Linked DNA regions of Homo sapiens: region 1 is linked to region 2. The links come from fine-mapping of genetic effects on gene expression. A gene starts in region 2. The other region holds a variant in brackets. All regions are shown on one strand. Distances are from middle to middle. Region 1 has its middle 4.1 kb from the start of CYREN. Region 2 holds the start of TMEM140 (transmembrane protein 140).

What was found. PIP is the estimated chance that this variant, and not a neighbour inherited with it, causes the effect.
Region 1: its variant is the best candidate, but not a certain one, in a credible set for the expression of TMEM140 in whole blood (TOPMed, PIP 0.54).

The regions. Positions count from the first base shown.
Region 1 is chr7:135,172,114-135,177,499 of GRCh38, reverse strand. It overlaps a transcript of CYREN not described here. Among named protein-coding and RNA genes, the nearest start is that of CYREN, 4.1 kb to the right of the region's middle. The variant A/C (reference allele first, on the strand shown) is at 3,088.
Region 2 is chr7:135,145,738-135,151,123 of GRCh38, reverse strand. It overlaps TMEM140 (transmembrane protein 140), which reads right to left and starts at 3,052. Exons shown (of 2, transcript NM_018295.5): 1 at 2,854-3,052. It also overlaps a transcript of CYREN not described here. RefSeq lists an enhancer at 2,774-3,273.

The DNA.
Region 1 (5,386 bases), 26 kb before region 2:
CCGCATGTAAGGTAACAGTAACTTTATTTATGTCCCATAGGTCTTGCACAGGCCTGAACCCACCAGACGGTTTTTGCACTGGTTAAGAGTAGAGTATTCCAGGGTGACTTGCATTTCTTTATGATCCCATGTTCTAATAGCCGATTTATGTGCTTGGTCATTCCTCGCACTGCCTCTGTAGACACCTGGTACTGGGGAATACGCACTGGAGTTGCACCTGGAACTAACTTGACTACCACTGGTGCCCGGTTTATGACCAATCCTGGAGGACTGTCTTCTGCCCACACCTCAGGTATTTCAGTGACTAGTTTGTCAAATATTCTGTCCATAAATTCAGACAGCCTGTACACCTCTTTTACATATAGCCTCCATTCCTCAGTCTCGTGGAGGGTAAGAGTTAACATCATAGCTTTTGGTCAGCTTAGATCCAGAGTCATGTTTCCTTCTGGCCTGAAAGAAATTTGTGCTTGTAGTTTCTGAAGCAAGTCTCTCCCTAACAGGGGCACAATAAAGTCCATCTTTTGGCCTCCCACTTTCATAGAGACCAGGGGCTCCTGGAGGCCTAGAGAGATGGAGCCCAGTCTGTCTCAGTCCTTATATTCCTCAACTCCTGCTAAGCTGACCAGATCGGCATCCAGCTTTAGAACAACGGCTAGTGGCTGCAGGCCTTGGGCGGGCATCAGGTCCCTGGCTGCTACTTTCTTCCTTTTCTCTTTCTGGACATTCAACCTTCCAATGCCCTTTCTGTTTGCATTCTTGCACACTGATCCCTCTCAAGCCTAGGCTGGCCTTCAAACCCTGGCCTAGCTTGTCCTCTACTGTGACCACGACCAAGTCCGCGTCCTCTCACAAAACCAGTCTCTCAACCAGAGCAGCAGCCAACAAATCAGCCTTTTCCTTGGCTTTGTGCTTTGCCTCTTTCTTGGCTTCCTCCTCTGGATTAACAAACACCTTAGTAGCTACTTGAATGAGCTGGGTAATATACATAGCCTCAAAACCTTCCAACTTCTGAAGCTTCTGTCTAATGTCACCTTGTGCCTGGCCCATAAATGCCACGTTAACCATGCATTGATTCCCTACATCCTCCAGATCAAACGATGTATAAAGCCGGTATGCTTCACAGAGTGTTTCATAAAATTCACTGGGACTCTAATCAACCTTTTGGCATACCTCTGAGACCTCTCCCAAATTCGCTGCCTTTTTCCTTCTGGCCTTTATTCCATTAAGGGGTGCCTCCCGATACCTATGCAGGTTTTGCAATTCTCCTGCCTGGTTTGGATCCCAATTTGGATCTGCTTCTGGGAACCTCTTCTGTGCCTACCGCTTAACATCATTTGTGCCTTCAGGCGCATTGCTTTCTAACCACTGTAAGGCTGCCTGAGTAATTCTCCTGCGCTTTTCTGTATTGAACAATATTAAAAGTAGCTACTGACAATCAGGCCAGGTAGGGTTATGAGTCAGAAAGATGGACTGCCTGAAGTCTATGAGGGCCTGGGGCTTCTCCGTGTAGGAGGGTGTAAGCTGTTTCCAGTTTAGGAGGTCAGTCTTCTTCTGTCAATGCCTAATGTTACATATTTTCCTTTATTCCACTTTGAGTCTGAGGGGTTTGTGATTATCAATTCTAAAGGATCACAGCTCCCACTCGTGCAGGAGGGGCTGCCTTTCCTTTTTGGAGCCAAACAGGATATTTTTTTTATCTTCTTTCCAAGTAGCCTAAATGACACAAGACCAGTACTGACACATCTCACATAAATATGATTTTTGACAGATGTACTTATTTTCTGCTGTGTAACTTTTTTCTCAATCTAGAGAACCGCATTCTATCCCATGCTGTTTACTATTAATAGCGGCACAAGCATCAAATTTTAAGGTTACATTTTTGGGGACCCCTCTTTCTTCTGTTCTAGCTATTACCTTACTTGTGTCACCTAGAAAAGGACCAGTCCTTAATTTTATTTTAAAAACTGTGATCATGGGAGGCTTAAAATGGGTCATAACGCGCATCAGGTTGGTTATTTCCTGGGCTACATACCTTGGATAGAATAGCATTATACAAACAAGTTTCTTTTAGAGTCCTGGTACACTTATAATAACCATAAAATAATAGGACTGTAGCAATCTTTTGTCCTACCTTAGTGACTTGATGTATATACTGGAAACAGTTCTCAGTCTGAGGAAGGTCAGTTGAAGTCCTTACCGTTCAAGTCCAAATTTTAAGGAAAATGAGTCTGTGATGAGTTTCCTCATGTTTCAGCCGTGCGTGGACCAGTCAGCTTCCAGGTGTGACTGGAGCAGGGCTTGTCGTCTTCTTCAGAGTCACTTTGCAGGGGTTGGCGAAGCTGCTCCCATCCATGTACAGCTCCCAGCCTACTGATGTTTAAGGGTGGTCTCGGTGGTTGGGCCTACTAGAATAAACTGAGTCCAGATATGGTTAACTGGGCTCTCTGATACCAGGAGGAAGGTGGCAGGGTTTAGGGTGTGCAAACGTCAATGGTTATGTGGGGATTTTCACAGAGCTAGCTTTGGCATCTAGTTAGTCTAGCATTCATCTAGCATGGTGTCCTTTGGTATTTATTAAAATCACCACAGCATGGGGGGAGTTTATGTTTAGGTTTTGTGTAAGAGTTAGCTTATCTGCTTCTTGTGACAGGGCCGTTGCTACCAGGGCCCTTGGACATGGGGGCCAGCCTTTGGAAACCCCATCTAGTTGTTTTGAGAGATAGGCCACTGGCCTTGGCCAGGGCCCTACAGTCTGGGTTAAAACTCTAACTGCCATTTTTTTTGTTTCTGACACATAGAGCGTAAAGAGTTTTGTCAGGTCAGGTAGCCTCAGGGCTGGGGCCGACATGAGTTTTTCTTTTTAACTCATGAAAAGCTCGTTGCTGTTGGTTGTAATAGATGTAGTTTATCTAATCTACATTTTTATTGACTGTCATCTACCAAAATATTGACTTAAATCCTGTAACTATTTGATTTCAAGCTTTAAATTGATCTGGGACTCCTTGCGGGGCTTCAATTGCATCTAAATAGATGTGAGAGTTGAAAGACCTATAAGGAGCTTTTCTCGCTTTATGATGTCTTCTTCTT[A/C]TTATTATTTTTTCCTCTTGTTGATGAAATGTCAGGGTGAAAGGGATAGCCAAATGGACTAAAGCACAAGTGCCACTCTAGTTACTCGGCAGAGTCCCCAATAAAGGTCTACCACAATACCACCACACATCCGCTTTGGGATGAACAAGGGCTGACTGATTGATAAGCTCTTGAAAATTCTTAAGCTCACTGCATCCCTTCAGGTCTCCAAGGAATGCTAAGTCTCCTCCCTGCCATGAGAGACACGTAGTGAACTTAGTGTTGGGAGATGGAAGCTGGATGGCCCTCGGGGGCTGACCTGCAGGGACTTTGGGATATAGCAGAGAGAGCTTGGCATGACTTATTACTCCAGGCTATAGAATCCTGGAAAAGAGCTACCATGCAGCCCATGCCTGGCCGACTGGAGGACCACCTTAGTGGAAGGGGGACAATCAGGGCCTCTGGCCTGCCATGTGCACAAGCATGCTAATTGCTTTTGTTTAACCTGCAGATGGAATATTTGATCCATTTCAACCAGGCATTTGCATCTTGGTATGCTGTCTTAATTGCCAAAGTTTGTTTTAAGTCTTTAACTTTTATGATCCTCTAGTAAAATGAATGCTTCCTTTAGCACCAATTTTTATTAGTTTTTAGACAAAAGAAAGCTAAACACTATTTTATATTTACTAATGCTTCCTGTATGACTTTTATACCAGATAAGCTAAATTTTACCTTTATATTAGTGTGTTATTAATGTTAAACTTAATTTTAATAAAACCTTGTAGACATATTTATCCAATTTTTTATGTTTGACCATAAGGTAAGATTTTATAGACTCTTTTTAACCTTTTATAATTTTTGTTAAAGAGCAGGTTGATGCTTTAAGAAAAACCTCTTGCATTTTTACTTTAATGTCCAGTTCACAGAAAAACTGGATGATACCTTTTTAACCTTAGCTAATATGTTTACACACAGAATTTTTTTTATAATTAACGTTTTAAAGCTTGCTTAAACTTTTAAAACAATAATTTTTTTAACCTTTTAATGTAGGTAAAAATCCACGTTTATGCCCCTTTATAATTTTTTTTTTTACCAAAGGTATATTTTACTTTTCTTATACATCTTGCACATGAACTGGTTTTTTTTTTTTAAATAGTACTCAGGAGGCCTCATTACTTTTAAATTATACAATATTTTTTGCATAAAAATTTTTTTTTATAATTTTTTTCTCACGACTTTCCCAGACAATTTTTTAACATGTCTCAATTTTTTGACTGATTAACAAACTTTTTTTTCTTTAAACAACCAGTTAATTTATTTCAGGACAAGAATTTACCATATAACTTTTTTTTAATATAAATTCTGCCTCCCCCCTTTTCTTTCCTTTTTAAAAAAGCGAACTTTCTTTATGTCTTTGGACTAGACTGTCTAAGGCCACAAGATTAGAAGTTACCAAAATACATGTTACACTGTTAACTTTTAGCAAACTTCACTTTTGTTGAAAACCTTGTAAGTTTGAGATTTCAATTATCCTTTGCTATTAATAAGAACTTGTTTAGTCTAAACTCTTAGAATTGGTACAGATGGCCTCTTTTTCTCTTTTCTGGTCGTTCCTTGGCTCTGCCAGCCGCTTATGCTGCTGTTCTCTTAACTACTGTGGTGGGGGAAAGGGGGTCTAAAACCAGCTGTAACTGTCTATGTACAGAAACCGGTCTGGGTGCTTTGGCTTACAGGTTACCTTGTGCCATACCTTTGAAACAAGGGACCTGTCCAGGCTTCCTTCTGGTGGCCAACCTACCTCTAATGCTAGCCAGTCTATTTCACACAAAGTTCTAAGTTTTCCTGGTGTCATACTAACACCGTAATCTCCTTTAAATTCTCTCTTGAAAAAAAATTTTTTTAACATAGGTCCCAGTGGGGTGGGCTTACTTTGCACCTGACCCATGTTTTTTTTTTTTTTTTTCCAGACAAAATACCACGCTCACACCACACATACCACAAGACAAAGAACAGGTAAAGAGGGCACACACACTTTTACCGTTTATACCAAACCAAAATCACGAAATTCAAAATCCGAGTACCAAAAAATTCAAGCCAAGTCAAAACCAAAACCAAAGTATCCAGCAATTCAAGTCAAGTCAAAACCAGAACAAGAGTGCCCATGCAGGCATGCTGTGGGTGATCAGGCCACGTTTCCACTCAGATGGAGTGGGGCAAGTTCCAAAGACTAGTCTTACCAAGTCAAGCCAAGTCAAAACCAGAACAAAAGTGCCAATACAGGCACACCGTGGGTGATCAGGCCACGCTTCCACTCACGTGG
Region 2 (5,386 bases):
TATCAGACAAAATAGGACTATACCATGAGATTATAACATAAAGTCAGAAGCATGAGTCCAGGCACCCAGATGACAAGCCATTGAGATAGCTGTTTAAATGGTTCCATTAATATTAACTTGCTATTTGTGCAATTGTTTTGTTGACTATTAGCTCTCACTAGCAGATAATCCAAGTGGGAACAAAGATTACAAAAAGTTTAGAGGGAGAAGAAAATCCTTAAAAATGAGAAAATGTCTACAAATGAGCCATCTTAATTTGTTTGTTTGTTTGAGACAGTCTTGCTCTGTCACCCAGGGTGGAATGCAGTGGCACCATCTTGGCTCACTGCAATCTCTGCCTCCCGGGTTCAAGAAATTCACCTGCCTCAGCCTCCTGCCACCACGTCCAGCTAATCTCATTTGGTTTCTGTTGGCAGGACTCCACGGTCCAGTTTGTGGGCGGCCAAGATTCACAAGATTCAGAGTTTGAGAATCAGTAGTACCAGAAACTGGTGACTGCCTTTGGCTGTCAATGGTTAGTTTTCCCGCACCAGCCCTCTCTTCCGCAATTACAAAGGCAATTTGCCACCCACTTCGACTCGTGGGGTCAGCATTTCATCTTGTAACTCTGTTAGTGACACATTTTGGATGACTCCCTGAATCAGAGGCCCTGGGGAATCAGTGCCACACAGGACAAACCAGGTGCCTGCTCTCATTGAGCTTGTACTCTAGTTGGGAAGGCAAACACCAAATGTATTTTTTAAAAGGTAATTATAATTTTTGAAAAGGTTTGGGAAAGAAATAAACAGGGTGAGTGAGAGAGAGAAACTGGCAGGAGGAAGTGATGACTAGATTATAGGGTCAGGGAAAGCCTCTCTTCAGAAGAGATATTTGTTTTGAGTCCTGAAAGGGTTCTTCATTAACTAATACTGAAGCAATTGATCAGCTAACTAGAAAAGAGAAACAAAACTATTTTAGGTCCTCATCTCACTCCACATACCCAAATAAATTTCACATGGATCCAAGAGTGAAAGGTAAAACCAGATAAAAAAATCAATGATCTGGAAAAAAGGATATATTTGATTTATGAGTGAAAAATAAAATTTGGAACTTAAGAGCAAATGGAAACTACAAATAAAGAATTGCACAGGTTTAACTATTCTAAAATAAAGATTTCTATTCACCAAAAACAACATAAATATAATTAAAAGTCAATGAGCATGGAAAATATCTACCACAACTATGAAATGATTAATGTACTTAATGTTTAAAATGTTTACGCAAACTGTCAAAAAACATTACACCTCATTAAAAATGGACAAATATGAAGAGATAATTCACAAAGAATGCAAAGTAGTTAACTAACATGAAAAAAAATTCTGTAACTTTTCTAATGTAATTAAAGATACGCCAAGTAAAAAACCAGAGTTTCCCTATCAACACTGTAGGTAAAAACACTTGATGATACCAAAAATATGGTTAAACTGGCATTCTCACACAATGATGGTGGATGTGAACATTTGTACAAACTTTCAGGGAGGCAGATTGGCAATAAACATTAAAAACCCTAAAAATAGTCATATCTCTTTGGCCCACTTTTATAAATCTATCCTAAGACAGCAATCAGAAATCCAGTCAATAATTTATACATAGGAATGTTCAGCACAGCATTACTTTTGGCACAAAATGGGAAGCAGCTTGAAAGTCCAATATCAGAAGTAAACTATGATGTATCAAGGATAAAATACTATGCATCTTTTAGAAAAAGCAGGTATAAAATCACTCTACATAGTGTGACTACATCCATATAAAGAGGCATAGGAGAAAGAGACTAAAGAAGTATTTGAAAATGTTAATGTTAGCTGTGGTAGCTCTGGGTGGTGACATTACAGGCAATTGTTCTCTATTTGCAGTAAAATATTTTTAGAATTATGTGCTACATTTATGAAAAAAAAAGAAATTTATAAAACAGGCATTCAAAACAGCCTTAGTAATTAGATAAAGCAGGGACTAAGCTGGAAAGAAAGTTGAGAAAGGGGAATATGTGCAAGATTGAAAAAATATCTCATGGACTGAGTCTCAGACCTGAGATTTTGGGGAATGGGGTATGGTAAGTGGATACTGAAAAATGCTCTTCAGTTATCATGAGGGAAGAAGGAAATATGTGTCTTTTCCCTCTTTCAAAGGAGCCTTTGATTTTATAGGCGAAGAAGCATAGTGGAAGTTATTAGTGAAACTAAGCCCACATTAAAAAAAATCTCTTAAAATATGCATCAAGAGAACTAAAATACCACCATGGATTTCCACTGGGGCATGAGGAGCAATCTGGTCTAATGACTAACATAAGATCTAAACATCTCTTAGGTCCCATTCTTTGAGGCAAGAACACAAGTTTTTCTGTTGATATTAATCTTCAGTGTGTATTTTAAAGTTTTATGATGTGTTCGTAACTACCATTGAATAGTGGTTTAGTTAGTGTTGGTCGGTGACCTGCTTTTGTTTACCTATTTCTGATGAACAGTGTATTGCACAAGCCACAGCCATGTCCTTGTACACACTGCGTGCAAGACTCTGCTGTGTGCAGTCAGCCCTGCATCGTTTCTAACCAGTTATACTGGCCTTACTTTCATCATCTTTGAGGCCAGAGCTACACATGTTGATGCCGAAGAGTGGAAGGAAGGAGAGCAGAGAGTAAAGGGGGTAGATTATGTAGATTATACAGACATGAGCGAGGGAGGGTCACAGATACTGAACAACCAGTGAGTTCCCCTATGTGGATTGCCAGAACATGAAATATCTGAGAAGAAAACAAAATTGTCTTACAAGGTAGTAGACGTCTGGGTAAGCTGTGATGCTTGCAGGATCGGTACTTACAGAAAGGAGGTGCAGAGACCACAGGAACACTCATGAAAAGGAGAAGCAGGAAATCAGGGTTGGTTGTTTGAATCTTCCTTCTCGCTGGCTTTCTAATGTCAGACTCCAGAAAGGAGGAGTGGAAGGGAAATGGCAGGCAGATGCAGTCCTGAGCTGGTGCCCCCTTGCCTTCGCAGTCGTGCCTAGTAAACAGCTCTCTGAACTTTGGTACATTTGTTCTGACTGATGTCACTATCAGCTGATTTCACTTTCGTTTCCTAACTTGCCAGTGGCCCATGACTTTTCAGAAATGAGGTATGTAAACAACTTTTTATTGTCCATTATGACATACTCTTTACCTACACTGTAGCCGGCAAACCAACTGATTTAAAGAGCCAGGTAAATGTCTTGATTATATCACACAATAATTCCAGAAAGGGAAGGAGCCAAAGAACTCTCGAAGCTCCCAGTGATTTAAACTGCAAGATAAACACAACCCGGAATTTTATTCAGAAGAAACCCATCAGGATCATCTGGTCCAAGCTCCCAGCCAGTGTGGCAGTCAGGACCCAGGTCACCTCCTACTCATTTCCTTGGGAAGCAGCTATGCCGTCTGTCCCCCAACCCCTTTTAGAGATCAATTTTGTAATGATGACTGGGCTTCTCTGGACACAAAACTTTGTGTCCTGAGCATTCTCACTGCAGTGTTTAGGCCCATGTTGGAGCAGCTGGAACATCTATTTTATTTCAAAATAAGAGCCGAACAAAGCTTTTATTTTTGTAAGCATTGGGGCTCCTGGCCAGAGTTTAAAAATTGCTTCCGTTGCTCACATGACCAACTGGAAATTTCAACTGTGGGTTAAACTTGGTTACATGAGACTGCTACCTAGTGCTATTGCTGAATCCTTCAGCGGTTCTCTTCTGCTTCCTTGCCCTTCCTCCAAAGGAGGAGTTATTTGAACTGCTACATTGCCCTCCCCCTGCCCCTAGTTCTTTTAAACGCAAACTCTAGAAAGAGGTGATGGGATCCAGGAGGAAGGAAGAACAGAGGCTTTGAGATCAGAGAGTTCTGCTACATACTAGCAAATTATTTAATCTCTTTGAGCATCAATTTCTTATCTGTAAAATGGAAACAGTACCTACTTTGCATGGTTGCTCTGGGGACTGGAGATAATATAAGTGCTTAGTACAATACTGGGACCATAGTAATGGTAGCTATTATTATGAAAAGTGGAATTTCTGTATATTTAGTCTAGCATCCATATTAATGCCTTTAAGACAGAAAATTAACTTTTAGATACTAATATACAGTAGTTACTCTGAAAACTCAATACTGGTGAGTGAAGTGATATAGAAGAGATAGAAACATATTTATATTTATGAAATTTATTCAAGGTTATCATGTACCTAGTTTTCAAAGAGTCAGTTTTTCAAAACTTACGAAAATCGGCAGTCCCACACTCTCCCTTTCTTCCTCTTCAGAGGCAAGCACTTTCACCTGTGCTCATTCTTTAGGCATTTACCTCAGTTCTCTAAATAACATGCTTGGATTGGTACTTCTTGATTTTTCAGTTTCAGGCATAATCTACTGACTCCCAACCATAAAAGGTGAAGATTTAGCTTTCTTCTTCCCCACTGCATGTTCCAGAAGTATGCTTCCTCTCTTCCTCCTCTATCCAAATTGGTTATAGTTTTGTTTAAATCAATATTCAGTGTTTACAATATTGGAATATGCACAGGTATACTTTATTTTATTGTGCATCTCTCTTTGTGGATCCTGCATCTTTTACAAATTGAGGATTTGTGGCATTTTTGCATCGAGCAAGTCTATTGGCACCATTTTTTCAATAGCCTTTGCTCACTTCATGTCTCTGTGTCACATTTTGGTAACTTTTGCAACATTTCAAGCTTTTTCATTATTATTATGTTGGTTATGGTGATCTTTGATGTTACTATTGTGATTGTTTTGGGGTGCCATGAACCGCACCCATATGACGGTGAACTTAATTGATAATTCAGTTCTGACCGCTCCACCAACTCTGTGTTGGTGTTCTGACCGTGTGTTCTGACCACTCCACCAACTGGACGTTCCTCCATTTCTCTCTCACGTTAGGTCTCCCTATTCCTGAGACACAATAATACTGAAATTAGGCCAATTAATGTCCCTACAATGGCCTGTAAGTGTTTAAGTGAAAGGAAGTGTCACATGTCTTTCATTTAAAATTGGAAACTAGAAATGATTAAGCTTAGTGAGGAAGGCATTGTGAAAGCAAAGATAAGCCAAATGTTAGGCCTTATGTTGTGAAGGCAAAGGTTCAGATGATTGTTAGCATTATTTAGCAACAAAGTATTTCTAAATTAAGGTATGTCCGTTAGGTTTTTTTAGACATAACAGTATCACACACTAAATAGGCTACCTTATAGTATAAACATGACTTTTATATGCACTGGGAAACCAGAAATTCGTGTGATTTGCTTTACTGTAATACTTGCTTTATTGCAGTGGTCAGGAACAGAACCTGCAACATATCTCCGAGGTGTGCCTGTAAATACC